Homo sapiens: one gene and its partners. The main gene of each other region encodes a partner of the protein of the gene in region 2 in a complex. Links are inferred from orthologs where the notes say so. Each region holds a gene or a part of one and is shown on either strand. Other genes may lie near its edges.

What was found. Proteins that work in one complex are often made in the same cells at the same time.
Region 1: the proteins of POLA1 (region 2) and PRIM2 are in contact, whole or in part, in a cryo-EM structure (PDB 8G9F), measured with the Xenopus laevis proteins. The link is inferred for Homo sapiens from one-to-one orthologs. Residues at the interface, in NP_001082055.1 of Xenopus laevis: Leu842, Lys853, Ile894, Pro895, Glu896, Leu971, His974, Arg977, Glu978, Leu981, His982, Glu985, Gln988, Lys989, Asn991, Glu993, Asn1007, Asn1009, Arg1101, Asp1102, Glu1106, Gln1109, Glu1221, Asp1224, Gly1225, Asp1227, Ala1229, Leu1230, Met1233, Trp1234; in XP_018121015.1 of Xenopus laevis: Pro34, Pro35, Thr36, Glu37, Asn38, Ile39, Ser40, Leu41, Ile42, Phe44, Glu45, Ile49, Ile107, Phe110, Ile111, Leu114, Cys117, Gln118, Ser119, Glu120, Asp121, Arg123, Ala240, Arg241, Leu243, Val245, Val246, Gln247, Arg251, Leu252.
Region 3: the proteins of POLA1 (region 2) and POLA2 are in contact, whole or in part, in a cryo-EM structure (PDB 8G99), measured with the Xenopus laevis proteins. The link is inferred for Homo sapiens from one-to-one orthologs. Residues at the interface, in NP_001082055.1 of Xenopus laevis: Gln548, Lys551, His553, Gln554, Asn555, Phe642, Glu645, Val646, Gln649, Asn652, Leu673, Gly675, Arg676, Phe679, Lys1137, Asp1141, Pro1143, Asp1144, Ile1321, Gln1322, His1324, Asn1325, Lys1326, Leu1328, Leu1329, Arg1332, Ile1335, Lys1336, Tyr1338, Tyr1339; in XP_018112289.1 of Xenopus laevis: Met280, Tyr281, Lys282, Phe283, Met284, Phe285, Gln286, Lys287, Leu288, Met289, Ile291, Arg292, Val295, Ser296, Ile299, Glu314, Thr316, Leu320, Pro321, Gln323, Glu324, Thr325, Val326, Gln331, Gly333, Cys334, Asp335, Ser336, Asn337, Gly338.

What each region holds. Positions count from the first base shown.
Region 1 is NC_000006.12:57,642,608-57,647,363, forward strand, and holds the end of PRIM2 (DNA primase large subunit), read left to right. Parts: intron 1-3,320; coding exon 3,321-3,551; 3' UTR 3,552-4,243; downstream 4,244-4,756. UniProt on the Homo sapiens protein: Regulatory subunit of the DNA primase complex and component of the DNA polymerase alpha complex (also known as the alpha DNA polymerase-primase complex) which play an essential role in the initiation of DNA synthesis.
Region 2 is NC_000023.11:24,990,910-24,997,513, reverse strand, and holds the end of POLA1 (DNA polymerase alpha catalytic subunit), read right to left. Parts: intron 1,710-6,604; coding exon 1,564-1,709; 3' UTR 528-1,563; downstream 1-527. UniProt on the Homo sapiens protein: Catalytic subunit of the DNA polymerase alpha complex (also known as the alpha DNA polymerase-primase complex) which plays an essential role in the initiation of DNA synthesis.
Region 3 is NC_000011.10:65,278,940-65,285,974, reverse strand, and holds part of POLA2 (DNA polymerase alpha subunit B), read right to left. Parts: intron 6,438-7,035; coding exon 6,349-6,437; intron 4,984-6,348; coding exon 4,828-4,983; intron 4,306-4,827; coding exon 4,243-4,305; intron 3,497-4,242; coding exon 3,454-3,496; intron 1-3,453. UniProt on the Homo sapiens protein: Accessory subunit of the DNA polymerase alpha complex (also known as the alpha DNA polymerase-primase complex) which plays an essential role in the initiation of DNA synthesis.

The sequences.
Region 1 (4,756 bases), on a different chromosome or scaffold from region 2:
AATTTTTGTATTTTTAGTAGAGACGGGGTTTCACCGTGTTAGCCAGGATGGTCTCAATCTCCTGACCTCGTGATCCGCCCGTCTCGGCCTCCCAAAGTGCTGGGATTACAGGCGTGAGCCACCACGCCCAGCCCCTTAAATATTATATCTTAAAGTTAAGTCATTTAAATGCCATTTATTAGTTAGGGCAGGGTCTTTTGAGTATCGTTTAGTGTTTGGAATTTGATTTTATCTTTCTTTTATAAACTATACCCATAATACAGCATCAGCAATTTCCAGTTTGGATTCCTTAAAGTAGAAAAGGAACTTGATATATGCAAAGCAATAGGATCTTTCTCCCTCTCCTTCTGTGACTTTCACCTTTTTTTTAAGTGACTTGCTTTTCTTGACTCTTTAAAAACATTTTATTTAGATTTCATAGAACAATTTTTTTTAACATTCATTTTTATTTACTTTTCCCATGGCAACCCTATGACCTAACACTGTTATCTCCATTTCATAGATGGAGAAAATCAGACTTTAAAAAGATTACCCTATTTTGTGCACATTGAAGTCTAATAAATGTATTGCTAACTGACAACTTGAAGCGAGGTATAGAAAATGCCAAGATATTATTATAGCATAAGATACTAGGTTATTTTTGCATGAAATAGTACAACTATGTTTTTCTAATCTTTGTAGCCAAGTTTATCTCTAGAAATAAAATTTATAATGGAGATATCATTATCAGTATGATTTTGCATACAATCTCTTAAAACAGATTTCAGAGCAACTAATGATCTAGTCAGAAGGCCTGAATTTTAATTCAGACAAAACCAGTTACTAATTCTATGACCTTGAATAAACCATCTATTCTCCTTAGGCCTCTGTACATGGAGGAGATTGAATTTAATGGATTCCCCAAGGTCTTTCTAATCTCTGATTCTCTGTTTACAAACTATTTTACAAACTGTAAAGCCTTCTGATTAAAATGTATTAGACAATAAACATACTTTTTGTGAAACACATTGCAAAATGCAAAATTTATATTGGATTTCCCAGTTTTTAATGAATTGGGTGAAAATTGAATGTAATAAAAAAGTTCACAAATGATTCCATTGTTAATAAAAATTATAAAACATTTCAGAAACATTTTGAAATCAAGCAGCTAAGTTAAAAAAATGAAGCAAAGATAAAAATTTGTTCTTAATGATCTATAACTCTTAAAATCAGTCTGTATACTATCCATCTGTTACACACTGGAATTACTATAAAATTAGCCTAACATGTATTAACAACTAGCAAAAGAGAATCAGAGATTCCTAGGGTGCTTAGATAAGTATTACCAGAAAAGACTCATGTTTCTGTCTGCTGGTCCGTCCACCAGTAGGGTTCATTCTAGACCATGGCAGCAACCCCTTTTTCCCTGGCCAATTCATTTTAATCTACTAAAAGATTATACATAGCTTTAATCACACCACGTCTCTTTTTAAGGGTTTTTGGTGACTCTGTGTTGCCTAGAGAATTAGGTCTTGACCACTTACCCTGATTTTCAAGGCTCTCTCAGGCTGGCCCCTGCCTGTCTTTCCAACCTCATTCCTTATTGTTTCCTTGTATGTGCCTTTCATAGTAGGCTATGTGAACTATTTAATATTTGCTTTCCCAGGACATTCCCTCTTTACCTTGCTCATGTGGTCCTGCTGCAAATATTGCCTTTCCCCTCATCATCCCAGCTTTTCACCCTCTCCATCTTTCCAGACGCAACTCAAATAGCACTCCTCTTACAAAGCCTTCCTTGATCTCCTCAGCCGAAATTTCTCTCTACTGTGGAGTGTAATAGGCCTTTATCTGTGACCCTCATCAGTTCTCCATTCTTGGTAGAGGTTTTTAAGTATATGACTTACTGGGTTGGAAATTTGAGTTAGTCAAATGTATTCCTGTATGCTGAATAGTGAATAGTTTATAACACAGTCTTTTATATAGTAAGGCTTTAATTAAATATGCAAAATTATCACTGGTATACACTATTTCTGGGTTCACTTCACCAAATATTTATTAGATACCTACAGTGTGCAAGTCACTTCAGTACGAAGAGTGAGACGTAAAAGGATTAGTTAATACAAGACAGATGAACAAAAGAAATGGAATAACTTCTCAGTTTCCAAAAACTTGATAAATGAAAATACCACCCAAGAAACCAACAGTCACTCACTCAAGCAAAATGATATTTTTGTTGTCAACTCCAACTGCAGAAGGCGAGAAGGCAGGGATTTGAGACTGTGGAAAGTGAAACTGAATATAAGGAGAGATTACTAGAGTGCATAATTTGAAATGATACTCAAAATTAAAGTTTAATGATAGTATTTGAGAAAAAATAACATAAGTTATGAACCAGGCATGTTTGTATTCAGTCACAGTGAAATTTACAAGAAGAGATTTTCTGTAAAAAGACCAAGGAAAGGCCAAGATTAGAATGAAGAATTACATTGACTTAGGTTGCTTTTTCAGTTTATATCATACTAAATGAGTGCATATGCCAGACTTACAAGTCAGCTCTAAAACACAAGTGGTATCAGGGACCAGTATCAAAATGATCAAAAATGATTTTACGATCACTTAAAAACCCACAAATATTTACTGGCCTACAATGTGGTAGGCCTTTTGCTTGGAACTGGGGATACAATAATGAATCACACAGGTCCCTAACCTGTGCCTCACTAACATACAATGTCATTCACACACACACACACACACACACACACACACACACACACACACACACACATTTGTATTCCAAACATATTTTTATAGTTTTCTAATTTTTTGTTTTGACGTAATTGTCAACCAGAATTGGTAATGTTTTGGGTATTGCCAGAATTGAGGGCTTGGTGTAGATGGGAGGTGGCAGGTGGGAGTTGGGGGCTGGGGAGGTGAGAGAAAGGTGTCTAGTATGCCCCAAGGATGAATGGTGATACCAATCACTGAGAGCAAAGGATGGGGAGAGGGGAAAGGATACGTTTCCTGTTGGGTTTGAGCTGCCTTTGAGCCATCTTAGATGTTGAGTAGGTGTTGGATATGGGACTGAAACTAGATAGGGAACTGGAGCCAAACACAGAGGCTCAGACTAGAAATATAAATGTGGGAGCCATTTAGGTTTGGGTAGTGGTTGAAGCTCTCTTTGAATGAAATGGTGTAAGTAGCTGATTAAGTGTTAGAATGCAAACAGCTAGAATCCATGTTTCAGGTATTAAGTTTTAAACAAGTACTAAAACAGCTTTTGAAACTCATATATTTATAGCTTTGCCATGCATTAATGCAATATAAATTTCCTTCCTTTACAGGTGGATGATTGTGGCTTTTCTTTGAATCATCCTAATCAGTTCTTTTGTGAGAGCCAACGTATTCTAAATGGTGGTAAAGACATAAAGAAGGAACCTATCCAACCAGAAACTCCTCAACCCAAACCAAGTGTCCAGAAAACCAAGGATGCATCATCTGCTCTGGCCTCTTTAAATTCCTCTCTGGAAATGGATATGGAAGGACTAGAAGATTACTTTAGTGAAGATTCTTAGGCAGTTTTATAACCCTTTTTCCTCAATAGCCTGTTTCCTGTTTTTAAGATTTTGCCTTTGTTGTTGAAAAAGGGTTTCACTCTGTCACCAAGGCTTAGTGCAGTGACACAATTACAGCTGATTGCAGCCTTGACCTTCCCAGCTCAAGTGATCCTCCTACCTCAGCCTCCCAAGTAGTTAGGACCACAGGTGTGCACCTCATATCCAGATAATTTTTTTCAATTTTTTTTTGTAGAGGTGGGGGGTCTCCCTATGTTGCCCAGGCAGATCTCAGACTCCTGGGCTCAAGCGATCCTCACACCTCAGCGTCCCAGAGTGCTGGGATTACGGTTGTGAGCCACTGTGCCTGGCCTTTTTTTTTTTTTTAACCTTTTTGTTTAACTTCTCTCTTCACTGCATCCCAATCCATCTACAGGCATGCACACTTATTAGGAAAGGAGGTTTGAGGTAACAACAGAGACTTTCACTATATTTTGCTTTGACAGAAGGAAAGAGGAGGAGTTTCTATTAAAATCTGTCACTTGAGTGATGTCATTTAAGTCCTATTTTAGGAGATAAAAACAGCTTTGGGGACTGGTTAAAGTCCCCCAGAAACTACAATAAAGAACAACTTTTGTTTTAACTCTTAATCACTTTGTAATTTTGACTCAATCCTTTTCTGGACCATTTTTGTTAATAAATATCAAAGTGTACATGACAGTGTCTGCGTATAATTGGGAGAGTCTTATGTCGTAACAGATTGGACATTACTTCAGTTTTAAAATGGTAATTTGGAGTATCCAACACACTGCTGATCACTAATGAAGATTTTAAACTTTTCTTTACCTTTTTTTAAGAGTTGACCTATTTGTGGTTATTCTACATCAGGCACCTTTGAGTGGCACCAGACCCTCCTGAGTGAACTGTGACTTGGGAATTAACATAAAGTATAGCCAGTTATATTTATTAAGGAATAATAGGGATATTTTATTATGTAAAATAATGGCACGTCTTATCTGCTGCCATTACTCTGGGGACAGGTTCATGAAGAATAGACAATTACCAAGCAAGAAGGTTGTACATATAAAATAAAGTGTTTATTTTACCCTCCAACTTCCATACCTTATTACTTCTGTAGTTGCTGTGAATTACCAAATAGATTTGGTAAATTAAATTAATTTACTTGAGCAATGAATAGTGATACTTATAGTAACCCCCTCCTTTCA
Region 2 (6,604 bases):
TCTTCAAAAAGAGATGCTGCTGGGCTCTTGGCTTGGCTCTCTAAGTCAGCAAAGCACGTAAGAAACCATACTTCATCTCTTAAATGACCTAAAGTCACAGAAATTCTGAATGCTTCTCAGAACATTCGACCAAATATCATGCTGTGCACTCCTGAGCTGGGTTCTGATAGAGGTGGCTATGAAGAAACTGGGCTGAGGTTTGAAAAGGGGATGGCCTCTAGTCATATATATATATATGTGTATATATATGTGTGTGTATATATATATATGTGTGTGTGTATGTATATGTATATGTATATGTATATGTATATGTATATGTATGTACGTGTGTATGTATTTAGAGGTGGGGGCCTCACTATGTTGCCCAGTCTGCTTTGAACTCCTGGGCTCAAGCCATCCTCCTGCCTCCACCTCCCGAGTAGCCAGGACTACAGGTGTGTGCCACAGCAACTGGCTCTACTCACATTTTACTCCTTGCTGCCTCTCTAGTCAACTCTTTGCACCTGGTAAGGATTCACCACAACTGCTTTCCCTTTAGAAAACTTTATTCTTAAGAAGAAGGCACAACATACTTTTTCTTTTATAAAAACACACAGGTCAATGTTTTTTAAAAACACAGCATAATTGTACAAGGGGAAACATTTTGTTAGTATAATCTTACCAATAATGTAAGAGAGGAAAGACTGCCATACTGAAATACATTTTGCTGCTGCCAAAGACGGTCCTATTGTGAAGAAATGAGAAAAAAATAGCAAGCGCCAGGGCCAATTAAGCATCCCTCTCCCCGTTTTTCTGAATACAACACAGTGATCCTCACCGTAACCCCTACACATGTTAATGGATTGTTAGAGTATCAAATTATTTTCAATGTGCTTTCTTGTTGTATAAACCTTTACCTGCACTTTCTATTTAAGGGGCAAAAAGGGAATGTGAGTGTAAAACACCTGCTCAGTGTGTGTCTGTTGGACTTTGGAGCAATTCAACAAACAAGCCTGCTCTGTTTAATCTATTTAGTGAGTGCAAGGCTTCTAAATCTTCCCCCTCAGCTACCTATATAAAAGACAAGACTGAAAAGGACAGCCACTCCTGGATGGCTGGAGAAGCATTTGGATTTAGACCGGGTTTAATTGGCATATGAAAAAGCAAAACGTCAGCTCTTCAGTCAGGCTCTGAGAAGCTCTCTTTATGTGGGGGGGACATAGGCTAAAGGCCCTGAGGCAAAGCCTGGGGTCACTTACATTCCAGCTACTCTCAATCCAAGTAGCAATTTCCCTCCCTCAGAAACCGGGTCTTCAGGAGCTTGGGGAGGGGAGCTTGGGGAGGGGCTCTGGAGTTGTGTTTTAAAGCAGTACATCTTAATATGAAGACAGGAATTTCTATGATGCTTACGAACATTAGACTCAACATTTTTGCAGCCCCCTTTCCTGGTCTACATTCACACAAACATGAGACACAGTCCCAAGGGAGAAACAGATGCTGGAGGAGCATTTAGGGCCAGAGTGGAGGCACAGAGGAAGCTGGGATTTTTCAACTACCCCCTCCTTGGTTACTCCTGGGATTCCCTTAGGATTTCACGGCACAACCAGCGAAGAGTTTGCTCAGATTCACTTCGGAGTAGCCACTTCGGGACAAGAATTGCTCTGCTGTGTTCTTGAGTTTTCTGTAGTCCTGCAGAACTTTGGGGGTAAAAAATTGCTTCTTCAATTTATCTAAAAAGAGAGAGAGAGAGATTAGAAGTCTCAGGTAGTTTCTTTAAAGAACATTCAGTATTCCACCAGAGAAGGGGATGCTGATTCCATTTGTATCTCCACCATCTTATCTCTGGTCTACCCCTGGGGCCAGTCAGATGCAGCCCCCGCCGACCATTCCTCTGTGAAAGCTTTTCTTCCTTTCCCCTGTCTGTCCGCCTCTCAGCACCTAGCTGACTCAGTGCACTGGGGGACAGGGCCACCCTCTACTGATGTGAACTGCAGGTGCACCCTCATGTGCAGCAGACAAGGTGAGCTCTACTCGCAGACGCCACTTTCACCGGCGCTGCGAGCACATGCATGCAACTGCTTGCGAAGTCTGGACGTGGCAGGAAACACCTAGTCTCAAAGGGAGCTATGGCCTCTGGTGCCTTCCAGCCCCAACTCCCCAGATCAGCTGGGCCTAGTAAGCATTTTCTAGTCCCTCCAGCCCAAGTCCCTCTGCTAAACAAAATTTCCTTTGCTGAAAGAGGCGAGAGGTGAGCGGCCCCGAGGGCACCTGTCTGTCCATGGCCAAGATTTCTTTGCTCTTCTTTGTCCACACTGTGTGAACTCAGGGTATGCGGCACTCCTGCTCCTTTAACCCATTCATCCCTGGCCTTTCCCTTCTGAGCAGGATGCTACCAGCCAGAGAAAAGACCCCTCTCCTTTCCCTTCCCAGAGCCTGCTACTTCTACATGTTGTTTTTTTTCTTTCTTTTTTTTTTTTTGAGACAGAGGTTTGCTCTTGTTGCCCAGTCTGGAGTGCAGTGGCGCGATCTCGGCTCACCGCAACCTCCGCCTCCCGGGTTCAAGTGATTCTCCTGCCTTGGCCTCCCAAAGTGCTGGGATTCCAGGCGTGAGCCACTGCGCCCGGCCCTACATGTTGTTCTTTTAAAGGAGCAGTGGGGCTGTGATGCTCAGGTCTGATCTTTTGGGTGAAGAGAGTGATCACGTGGGGGATGACGCTGTGTTCAGGAACCTGGTAAGGTGTCTGGAGAGGCTGCTTTCCCCGCGCCCCCCCCACCCCCAATCCCCATTTGATGGCTGAGGAAACTGGGAGGTTAAGTCACTTACCCAAGGTTACACAGCAGGTAATCAGAGTTGTAGACACGCAAACCCAGGTAGCCAGAACCCCCAGCCCGCACCTGAGGAGAGGCTCACTTCTGCCCACTCCCCCTGCCACTACATCACTACTCCCACATAGAAATTTGCAGGCCTCAGACATCAGCTGATCCTGAGGTGAGGCCTCCGCCCCCATAAGATGCTGGCCTGTGCCAAAGGGCCTGGGAGCAGCAAGGCTGCCCAGCACCTCCCGATAGGAACCGGTCAGGAAGGAAACACGGAGGGGAGAGCGCGCCACTCACAGAAAGCAAACCTCCAACAACAGCAACACGGGAAGTCTACAAAACACCCGGAAAACGAAAACTCAGACTCCAGATTTTTGTTTCTTGGCTATACATTCGCATTTGCTCTCCACAACCTTTTCTGAATTACATAAGTTGTCCTTTAAAGAACAACCACAGGTTTTATAGAGAATTAAAATGCCCAAAAGGGGTGGAAAAAGAGAGGGGGGCTGCAACAGAAAGACAATTTGAAAGTTCTAATGATCTGAGTCTGGGAATAAACAACAATGGCCCCAACCAGTGTCGGCTGCCTCCCGGCAGGCCAGAGCCACAGGCCAGCAACCCCGTGCATGTGAATGACACAAATGCATCTGATGACTGGGGAGAGCACATTTAAAGAGCTGCGGTAATACGGAGCAGGGGAGGAAAAGAGAGGACATAGCTCCTGATGTGTTTACCTCCTCTGCTGATGGGATATTGACTTTTCCCACCAGGTTGGTTAGAAAGGGGACTATTTACGCTGCCACACAGCAGAGTTAGAATGACAACCAGCGTCACTCGGTGCTCTTCCTCCTAAAAGACAACTGTGACCGCCAGCATATCCCATAGCCAGTCAATACGGCCAAGGCACCATTCCACGCCAGTTAGAGATGCAGATAAAAGCTCCCACTTGCTTCCCCAAAGAGAATTTAATCAATAACATATGGAAGGTCTTCTAGGAAACAGAACTGGACTAGCTGTCACAGGCTGCGTCAGGGACAGGGGCTGGTGGGGGGAAGGAGTCACCCCTTCCTGGTTTTTCTCTTCCCCCTTTAGGCACCTGGGCCACCCACGTTAGGCCTCACATTAAACTGTTACCCTGTTTCTGTCAATACTATATCCACCACTTTAGAACTCAAGGGAAAATACAGGTGTTAACTGGTGGAGGCCAGTTAATGTGGCCAGTAAAACCCTGATTCCTTTTCCTGCTTTGATTTTGAGAGTCAGCCTATCAGTAACGACGCCATCACCTCAGGTGCTGCAGGTCAGGTGCCCAATAACAACTGTTAAAAGATTCCAACATGCCATTAGGCAAGAGCCAGAGAAGATCCGCAGCCATCCCATCCCTGTCCACAGAGATGCCACTGGCCCTGGTAACTGCTGTCTCCGCCACCAGCACCACAAAGCCAACCTTTGTCGAGATCGGGGAGGAAATGCTCTTCCTACACACAAGTGCGTCACTGAAATATACTCTAATGGCTTGAAGTATCACCCAGAAATCACTCATCTTAATACATCAGCAAAGCTAATCTCCTTTTTAAACTTTTCTTGAGAATAACATTCGAGGAACGTGTATATAAAGCTTATTTACTCTGATCCTTTCTACATGCTCTGATTCCCTGTGGTTATATGTTAATTACCAAAAATATTCTGTCCCTAACCCCTATGAAAACGATGGAAAAAAAGGGTAGCCTAGATACTAATTATTCACAAAATATTTTATCAGACTACAAAATGAACTGCTCATTTAAAAGTTGATTTCTATTGATTAGAATCTAAAACCTCAAAATAATGAAAGTTACATTCTTTTCTATATGGGATGAACTAGACCATCATCTGTAGGTTGACCTTTCTTAAATATTTTATATAAAAGTCAACTGATCAAATAAAATGCTAGCTCTATTAAAATAATGGAGTATTCTCCCATCTAAGGAAACTAACTCTACTTCACATATTTTAGTTCCATGTCAGTAAACCAAAAATCTCTTTTCAACTTTACTCTTTATAAAACCCTTTTTGGACTTAAAGAAACACACTGAACTAGAAACCACGAGGCAAAGACATTTTAACATCGCCTACTGGTTATTTTCTTTTAATTAAGGCAGGCTTAGGCACACAGGCAGCAGCCGTCTCTGTTCTGAATGTCTGTTTCATTTATTTCTGTACAAAGGTATCAAACAACAGTCAGTTATAATTGATTCTGTCAGGTGTTATACAGTCAGTCATAATTGTCTCTGTGTAGAGGTGTGTCAATTTACTATATCTGAATTAAATATTCTGTCAATTATGAAATCAGGTAATAATTTCAGTCAGTTTTTTAATTGCATGGCTTCCCACCATACAGTTCTCAGTTCTCCCACCTTTTCCAATCCATAGCCTCCCTCCCTCAATGCAACGTGAGCTTTGCAGTAAGGGGTGGAATGCAGGAAGCTTTAGAAAAATTTGAAAGAAAACTGCACCCCTCTACGCTCTCTACACGTAGAGCCATCCGACCTACAGAGAGCTGCTGGAGCCTCTGGCCTGCCTTTTTCCTGAATATCGATCCATATAACTGAGCTTCCGGCTATGCACAGTACCTGAAAGATTTCAAGTGACATCCATATTTTAAACTCAAAGACATTTAGGGCCCCAAATCAAATGGCAAGTACATAAACATTTCTCAAAGTAAGAAATGAAAAGAAATAATCTTTGAGTCAATTCTTATTTAGAAAAAAAAAATTCACAAGGCACAGTGCCAGGCACACACAGTGATCAATGTGTCTATCAATTAGCCAATGCCTAGAGGACCATTCTCACCCATTAAATCACATCTTAGATGCTAAAATATTTCTGAAGGCTTGAAGAGTCTGTTAGTCCACTATCCAGTTCCATTCCTACTTAGAAATAATTATCTTCAGTTTTCTTTCTTTTTTCTTCTTTTATGTTGATACCAAAATACAGCCTTCAAGAAGAATAAAATATCCATGGTTTAGCTCAAGTGCTCTACTAGGCTGTAGGCTGATCTGACAAGTATTTAGAAGTGTGATTATAATTCTCTCCACCATTGGTCTGGTTCATGTTCAATAAACACAGGCTTGCTGCAGCCTGGTGGTGGTGAACAGTGACCCTTCACACTCAAAGCAAATGGAGGTGCCATGGGGCCCAACTACCAGGAAGGGTTGTTCAGTGGAAGTTTGGGGAAGAGCAGAGGCCGATGCGAGAAGGGAGGAGACAGAATAAAGCAATGTAAAGAATGCCACTTCTATAGACAAGAATAGAAGGTAAGAGTCGTGCCCCTTACCATGTTTCAGTGGCAAAAGAGTCACCTTGAAAGAGATAAAAAATTTCCTTTCAACTGGATGAAGTGATTCTCTCAGGGTTGGGTTTTGGGTGTTTGCATTTGTCATGTCGGAAGAAAATTGCCCATGCAGCCCCCTTGCTGAGGTTATAAAAAGTACTGTCAACCATACTGGACAGAATTTTTTTTTGGGTGGGTGTGGGGGGGGAGGTTGTAGAGAAGGAAAAAAAAAAAAGAAACACATTGTGCAGGATCATTAAGCACTGTTGTATAAATAAAGTTAGAAGATCAAACGAAAGAGGGGACTCGGGTTAAATGCTGGAAGACAAGCTTAAATAAAGTTCTAAGAAAAAAGCAAGGCACGCTGTAATTCCAAGAACCTATTACTTCAGACAATTTACTTCAAAAAATAAAATCAGAATGGTAAATGATTACCAAAAAGCAATCATGTCATCATCACTGAGAGATGGAATAAAATAATTTTTTGTGAAGTGG
Region 3 (7,035 bases), on a different chromosome or scaffold from region 2:
GGGCTGTGATTCAGTCTATCATGGTAATAATACCATGAACTGACAGAGCATTCAAGGTGAAGAGCAGGTTTCATGTGGTGGTGGGGTAGGGGACAAAGTTAAGTTTGGCTCTGAGAAGCCTACAGGAGATGTGAGCCCCAGTGTAAGCAGTGAGTCTCTGGAGGGCGAGGGCCATGTCTTATTCTGTATCTCCATGAGTGCCTCATTTAATTCCTTGTACAAAAGTTCATTAACAACCTGTTAAACTGTTTCCAAAGGCTTCTCTGGTACACAGCTCAGGCTCCTGGTATCTCAGCCAGGTTGATTTCATTACCTGAAGTTGACCTAATACCAGCATGCCACCCTTGCCCCCTATAAATTTGTATTTTCTTTTTTTTCTTTTTCTTTTTTTTTTTTTTTTGAGATAGGATCTCACTCTCACTCCTAGGCTGGAGTGCAGTAGTGGTATGATCATGGCTCATGGCAGCCTTGAACTCCTGGACTCAGGAGAGTGATCCTCCCACCTTAGCCTTCCAGGTTGCTGGGACTATAGGCACATGCCACCATGCCCACACCCAGCTAATTTTTTTTTTTGAGACAGAGTCTAGCTCTGTCGCCAGGCTGGAGTTCATTGGCGATCTCGGCTCACTGCAACTTCTACCTCCCAGGTTCAAGCGATTCTCCTGCCTCAGCCTCCTGAGTAACTGGGATTATAGGCACACGCTGCCAAGCCAAGCTAATTTTTGTATTTTTTAGTGGAGATGGGGTTTCAGCTTGTTGGCCAGAATGGTCTCTATCTCCTGACCGTGTGATCCGCCCACCTCGGCCTCCCAAAGTGCTGGGATTACAGGGGTGAACCACTGCGCCTGGCCTAATTTTTGTACTTTTTGTAGAGATGAGGTTTCACCATGTTGCCCAGGCTGCTCTCAAACTCCTGTGGTCAAGCAATCCTCCTGCGCCAGCATGAGCCACCACGCCCGGCCAAACTTGTGTTTTCTGATAAAATGTGCAATATCACAAGGTCCTAAATTTCACTCCTGATTCTAGGTCATCTCCAAGAATGGCTCTGGCCACTGTTACATGCATGGGGTGTTGACAACATGCTAGTATCAGTGATCTGGTTGCTAATCCTTAACAGTGCTCCACTGTGCTTACAAAAATGCCTTGAGGGTTGGGTGTGGTGACTCATGCCTGTAATCCCAGCATTTTGGGAGGCCGAGGCGGGCAGATCACCTGAGGTTGGGAGTTTGAGACCAGCCTGACCAACATGGAGAAACCCCATCTCTACTAAAAATACAAAAATTAGCCAGGCATTACAGGTGCATGCCTGTAATCCCAGCTACTTGGGAGGCTAAGGCAGGAGAATCGCTTGAACCCGGGAGGTGGAGGTTGCGGTGAGCCGAGATGGCGCCTTGCACTACAACCTGGGCAACGAGTGAAACTCTGTCTAAAAAAAAAAAAAAGAAAAAAAAAACAATGCCTTGAAATACAGAAATACATACATATATTTTTTTGAGACAGGGTCTCACTCTGACACCCAGGCTGGAGTGCAATGGCACAATCATGGCTCACTGCAGCCTTGACTTCCTGGGCTCAAGCAATCCTCCTACTTCAGCCTCGCAAGTAGTGGGGACTATACAGGTGTGCACAACCACACCAAGCTGATTTTTTTTGTTTTTATTTTTTGTAGAGATGCAGACCCACTATGTGCCGGGAGGCTAAACTTAAACTGGGCTCAAGCAATTCTCTCACCTTGGCCTCCCAAAGTGCTGGGTTACAGAAGTCAGCCATCACACCTGGCCACCTTGAAATAAATAAATTCTATCTATCTATCTATCTATCTATCTATCTATCTATCTATCTATCTAGTGTCTTACTCTTTCACCCATGCTGAAGTGCAGTGGCATGATCACGGCTTACTGTAGCCTTGACTTCCCAGGCTCAAGTGATCCCCGCACCTCAGCCTCCTGAGCAGCTGGGACCACAGGCACATGCCACCATGCCGAGCTAATTTTTTTTTTTTTTTTGTAGAGACAGGTTTTCGCCATATTGCCCAGGCTGGTCTCAAACTCCTGGGCTCAAGTGATCTTCCCACCTCAGCCCTGTGAAGTGCTGAAATTATGTTGAAATATTTAGAAGCAAAGTTTGTCAAACTTTCTTTTTGCCTTTCCACAACTAGATTAGTTACCACATAACACTAGGGTTTTAAAGAAATTCTTTTTGGCCGGGCATGGTGGCTCATGCCTGCAATCCCAGCACTTTGAGAGGCCAAGGCAGGCGGATCACAAGGTCAGGAGTTCAAGACCAGCCTGACCAACATGGTGAAACCCCATCACTATGGGGTTTTGTAAAAATACAAAAATTAGCCGGGTGTGGTGTACGCCTGTAATCCCAGCTACTTAGGAGGCTGAGGCAGGAGAATCACCTGAACCCGGGAGGCGGAGCTTGCAGTGAGCCAAGATCTTGCCACTGCACTCCAGCCTGGGGGGCAGAGCGAGACTCCATCTCAAAAAAAAAAAGGAAGTTATTTTTAAGTTTTCACTTTAGAACAAATTTAGAATTGTAGAGAAGTTATGAAGATAGTACAGAGTTCCTGTGTGTCTTTCACCAGTGGCCCCTAATCTTAACATGTTAGGTAACCATGAACATTTGTCAAAATTAAGGCATTAATGCTGGTATATCGCTGTTAACTAAATTCCTGGATTCTCGAGGTTGAGTGTTAGAGCCAGAAAAATAAAAAAGTAAATTCCTGGCTTTATTCAGATGTTGCTAGTTGTTCCACTGATGTTCCCGTTCTCTTCAAGGATCCAATCCAGGATGCCACATTATACTTTCAAAAAATTAATTAATTTTAATTTTTTTTAAGAGTCAGAGTCTCGCTCTGTCACACAGGCTGGAGTAAAATGGTGTTACCATAGCTCACTGCAACCTTGAACTCCTGGGCTTAGGCAATCCTCCTGTCTCAGCCTCTGATTAGCTAGGACTACAGGCATGCACCACAAGCCCAGCTAATATTTTTTTTAATTTTTAGTAGAGACAGGGTCTCCCTATGTTGCCCAGGCTAGTTTCCAACTCCTGGCCTCAGGTGATCCTCCCACCTTGGCCTCCCAAAGTGTTGGGAATACAGGTGTGAGCCACCGCATCTGCCCATGCTGCATGTAAATAAATTCTTTTTGAAATCGTACATCTTTTCCTTTCCAAGGCAACCTTCAAAAATACCTGTTAAACATTAGTCTTTAAACAACATGCTTCATGTAGGCAGAACTCAGGCGACAGCACGACCAACGCTCACTGGGCTCAGACCAGGGGTCTTGTGACAAAAAACCTACGAACTCATGATGGTGGCGCCCTCACTGCTTGGTCACATTGCTCTTCAGCAGCTTCTGCAGCTTTCTTGGGCTTGGGAAACTGCACTCCTGGACTCATGTCTACCATCCTCATTGTTGGCAAAACAATATTTGAACCGAAACTCACCTGCATCCTCTTCAGTGGGCTGATAAAATGGAAGTGGCACACCCTAAAAACAGGGGAAAAGCTCAAGTAAGGTCTTGCGCCAGGCATCACCTTGGTAAGGAAAGGGGAGGGCACCAGGTTGGGGGTGGTGCAGGTGTGTGATGGGAGGACAGTGGGGAGGAGCGAGAGGGCAGGGGAAGGATGTGCCTCTGTCTTGCTCCCTGGATCTGATGGGACCTGCCATTTTTCTATACTGCTCAGAGGGCAAAGAAACCCAGGTAATGGGAGGTCACTACTCAATTGTCATAAAATACCCAGCAACAAGTGGGAGCAAAACAGGTGCCTAAAGTATCAGTGTACTTCTAGGCAAGGATGGGAGAGAATGGTTTCTTGCTACTTTTCCTGGCATTCTACGAAAATCTCTGGAGGATTGTTGCCTAGAGCAGGGATAGGTAACCTTTCGGCCTCTGGGCCAAATTTGGCTGCAGCCCACTATTTAAATAAAGTTTTATGGGAACACAGCCACAGTCATCTGTTTAAGAGTCCTCTATGGCTGCTTTTGTAGACAAAGGCAGAATTGAGTCATTGTGACAGAGACCATATAGCTACAAAGTCTAAAAGAGTTACTGTCTGGCCCTTTATAGAAAGGGTTTGCTGACCCCTGGCCTAGGGGTGGGTTCCCACTTACAGATGGAGAACTGACTAACAAATAAATGGGCTCCTAAAAAGGACCAGTTTCTAGAACAGACAGCTTCCAGACATACTTTGTCTGAAGCAAACCAAGAGGCAAGTGGGGGTACTGCTGTGTACCTCGTAGAGTTTGGTGGCAACAAGTTTCCTACCAGTGGTGTTGATTCCTTCCATAATTACAACCTGAAAGACAAAAACAAACAGGATTGCTAAGCAGTGGAGATCAATGAGGTCTGGAATACATTATTTTGAGGCAGTTAAAAGCATTGTCCAACTACTCTCATTCTGTAATCATAAACTTAGGGCATTTTTGTAGAAAACGAATTAAGGGCGTTGCATTAGTAATAATAATTATGCTCTATATAAGTGATCTAATTTTCACAACAATCCTATGAGGTAAGAATTATTATTTCCATTTTGTGAGTGAAGAAACTGTAGTTTAGATGGTTAAGTACCTTGTGCACAGTCATGCACCTCATGGAGCGGGGAGTTGGGATTTGAGGCTGCGCAGTCAGGTCCCAGAGCCTGGGTCAGAGCATGGGGGAAACAGGAATCCCAACAGTGGTGTCTGCTCTGGGGCATGTGCTCCAGCTGCACCCCATGGCAGCAGAGACAGGAACTGAGGAGCAGCTGCGCATGGCACAGCACCTACACTACAGGGGTAAAGAGTGCGCCTGCATTCTGGTGGAACTCCTCCAATCTCACCTGTCCAGGAAACAGAGAATATTCCTTAAGCTCAGATAAATCCACTGGAATTTGAGCACCCGAGGAATGTTCCCGGTCTCCCTCGAGAATCACTGACTTGTTGTTCAGCTTCCCGTTGCTATCACAGCCAATCTGGCCCAGCAGAGTGACAGGCTCCTACCAAAGGAAGGTCACAGCATAAGAATGACAGTCTTTGGAGCAGGAGCTCAAAATCTGAAGTCGATAGGGTGAATAGCAAAACAAACTGCAAACAACAAATACATTTCTTGGCAGGGCATTGCTTTGACCCTGAGGTGACTACCGCGTCATCACTGACTCTCAGGATGGAAGAACTCTGAAAGGGCATCTTGTCCACCCATCCACCCAGCACTTGAGCCTTCCTAGGAGGCTGCCTAAGTGTGAGCATCTCTAGTGTAGGGGAACTTGCCCCTGGATGCCTACCCCACCCTGTCCTCACCACCCCAGGGCAGCCCACTGCATCTTTGGGCAGCTATAACTACTTAATAATAGCTAACATTTCTTGAGCTTACTAAATACCATGCACTGTTCTAAAATGTATTCTTAGGCATTTTATATGTATTAACTCATTTAATCCTTGCAACAACCATCGGGTGGATATTACTGTATCCATTTTACAGATGAGGAAAACAAGCAACAGAAAGGTTAGATAATTTAGTCAAGGTCAAACTGTGGGTGAAGCTTGGGTTTGAAACCAGAAATTTGGCTCTAGAGCCATATCCTTAGCCACATACCATACAACCTCTTAACAGGAAGTTCTTTATTAATTGAGCTAAAATCTCTGTCTCCATGGCTTCCTCTGTTCTGTTCCCACTCTTGGGAGAAAACAGAGGAAGTCTCATCTTTCCCAGTGATTGTGCCTCCCTGCCTTCCCTCAATTACTTCCTTCCAAGTCCTCTAACACTTCCTTCTATGACACAGTTCTGCATCACTTCCCCAACTGATCATTCTTTGAATGTAAACATTGACAAAGGTACTTTAAAGAAACTTCTAGAATATATTTCCCCTTAGATTAGAAAACATTCTAGAGAGAAAGCACTGGTATATATGCCAGATTAAACTATGATATAAAGATACTATTGGCAGCAGTTTGTCTATAACAAGAGACCAAACCAGGGGAGAGACTGTGAGTCATTGTCCAGAGAACAAGATTCTGAAAACCCCACCGTCGCTGCTGTCCTTTTATCTCGATACGTGAATGCTTCTATTTGTGGGAAATCCCCGGGGAGCTACCTGACTCACCACCAAGGGAAACAAGGCCTTGAGTCTCTGCTTATGTGCAAGACTCTAATCCAAGTGGGAAGAAAATCACTCTCTGGCCACAAAACCAGACAGCACTTACAAATCTTTCTTCAGAAGGGCCCATTTTCCCAAATTCAACCAAGACAGATGTTCAAACTAGAACACAGACAAGAAGTGAAAAAGGAAGCAAGAAGGATGCCTCTTGGTCATCGATTTAAAAACGTAATATTAATTAGTGAGAACTATTAGAACAACTCTTACCTGTGCTGGGGCTAGCAAAGGAGTGAAAGCTTCAATCTTGTAATGTTCCTTGAGTTCGCTGCCAAGTTCTTCTATCTTACAGGTCAGAACTACAATCCCAGAAGTGGAAAAAAGTATTATGTTTAAGACATTTCACTTGCCAAGAAGAGAAAATACAGCACATTGTAAAATATTAAAGTCAGTCATTTTACAGAAGCAGGAAGGGTGCCTGGACATCTGGCCAGTTTAAACCTTCTAAAACCTTTGCCAATTTTCCGATATTTGGTTGCTGAATCTGGCCTTCCATCTGGCCACAGGAGACCCCATAGCACAATTCCAGGGAATCAGCATGAACCCCACCCCATCTCCAAGTCTGCCCTTTACTCAAGTCCTCACTGAGGTTTTAGGCAAGTCAAGGCCAACCTGAAGAAGGCTTCTAACGAAGGAACCATGAATATCTTTAAGTTGAATTCCTTTACATCGTTCAAGTTTTTGCTGCTGGGAATGGTTATGTGCGTTTTAGCAAAGTGAAGTGACTTGGGGCAATCACTGATAGTATTGCCCGTGTCCCTCCATTACTAGGGCTTCCATGAGGACATCTACCAACTCATACATTGAAAGGCAACCTTGGAACTTGTTCTACCAGCCTAGCTGAAGCTTTGTTACTCTACACCCTTCTAGGTGGTTTTATATCCACCAGAATTTCAA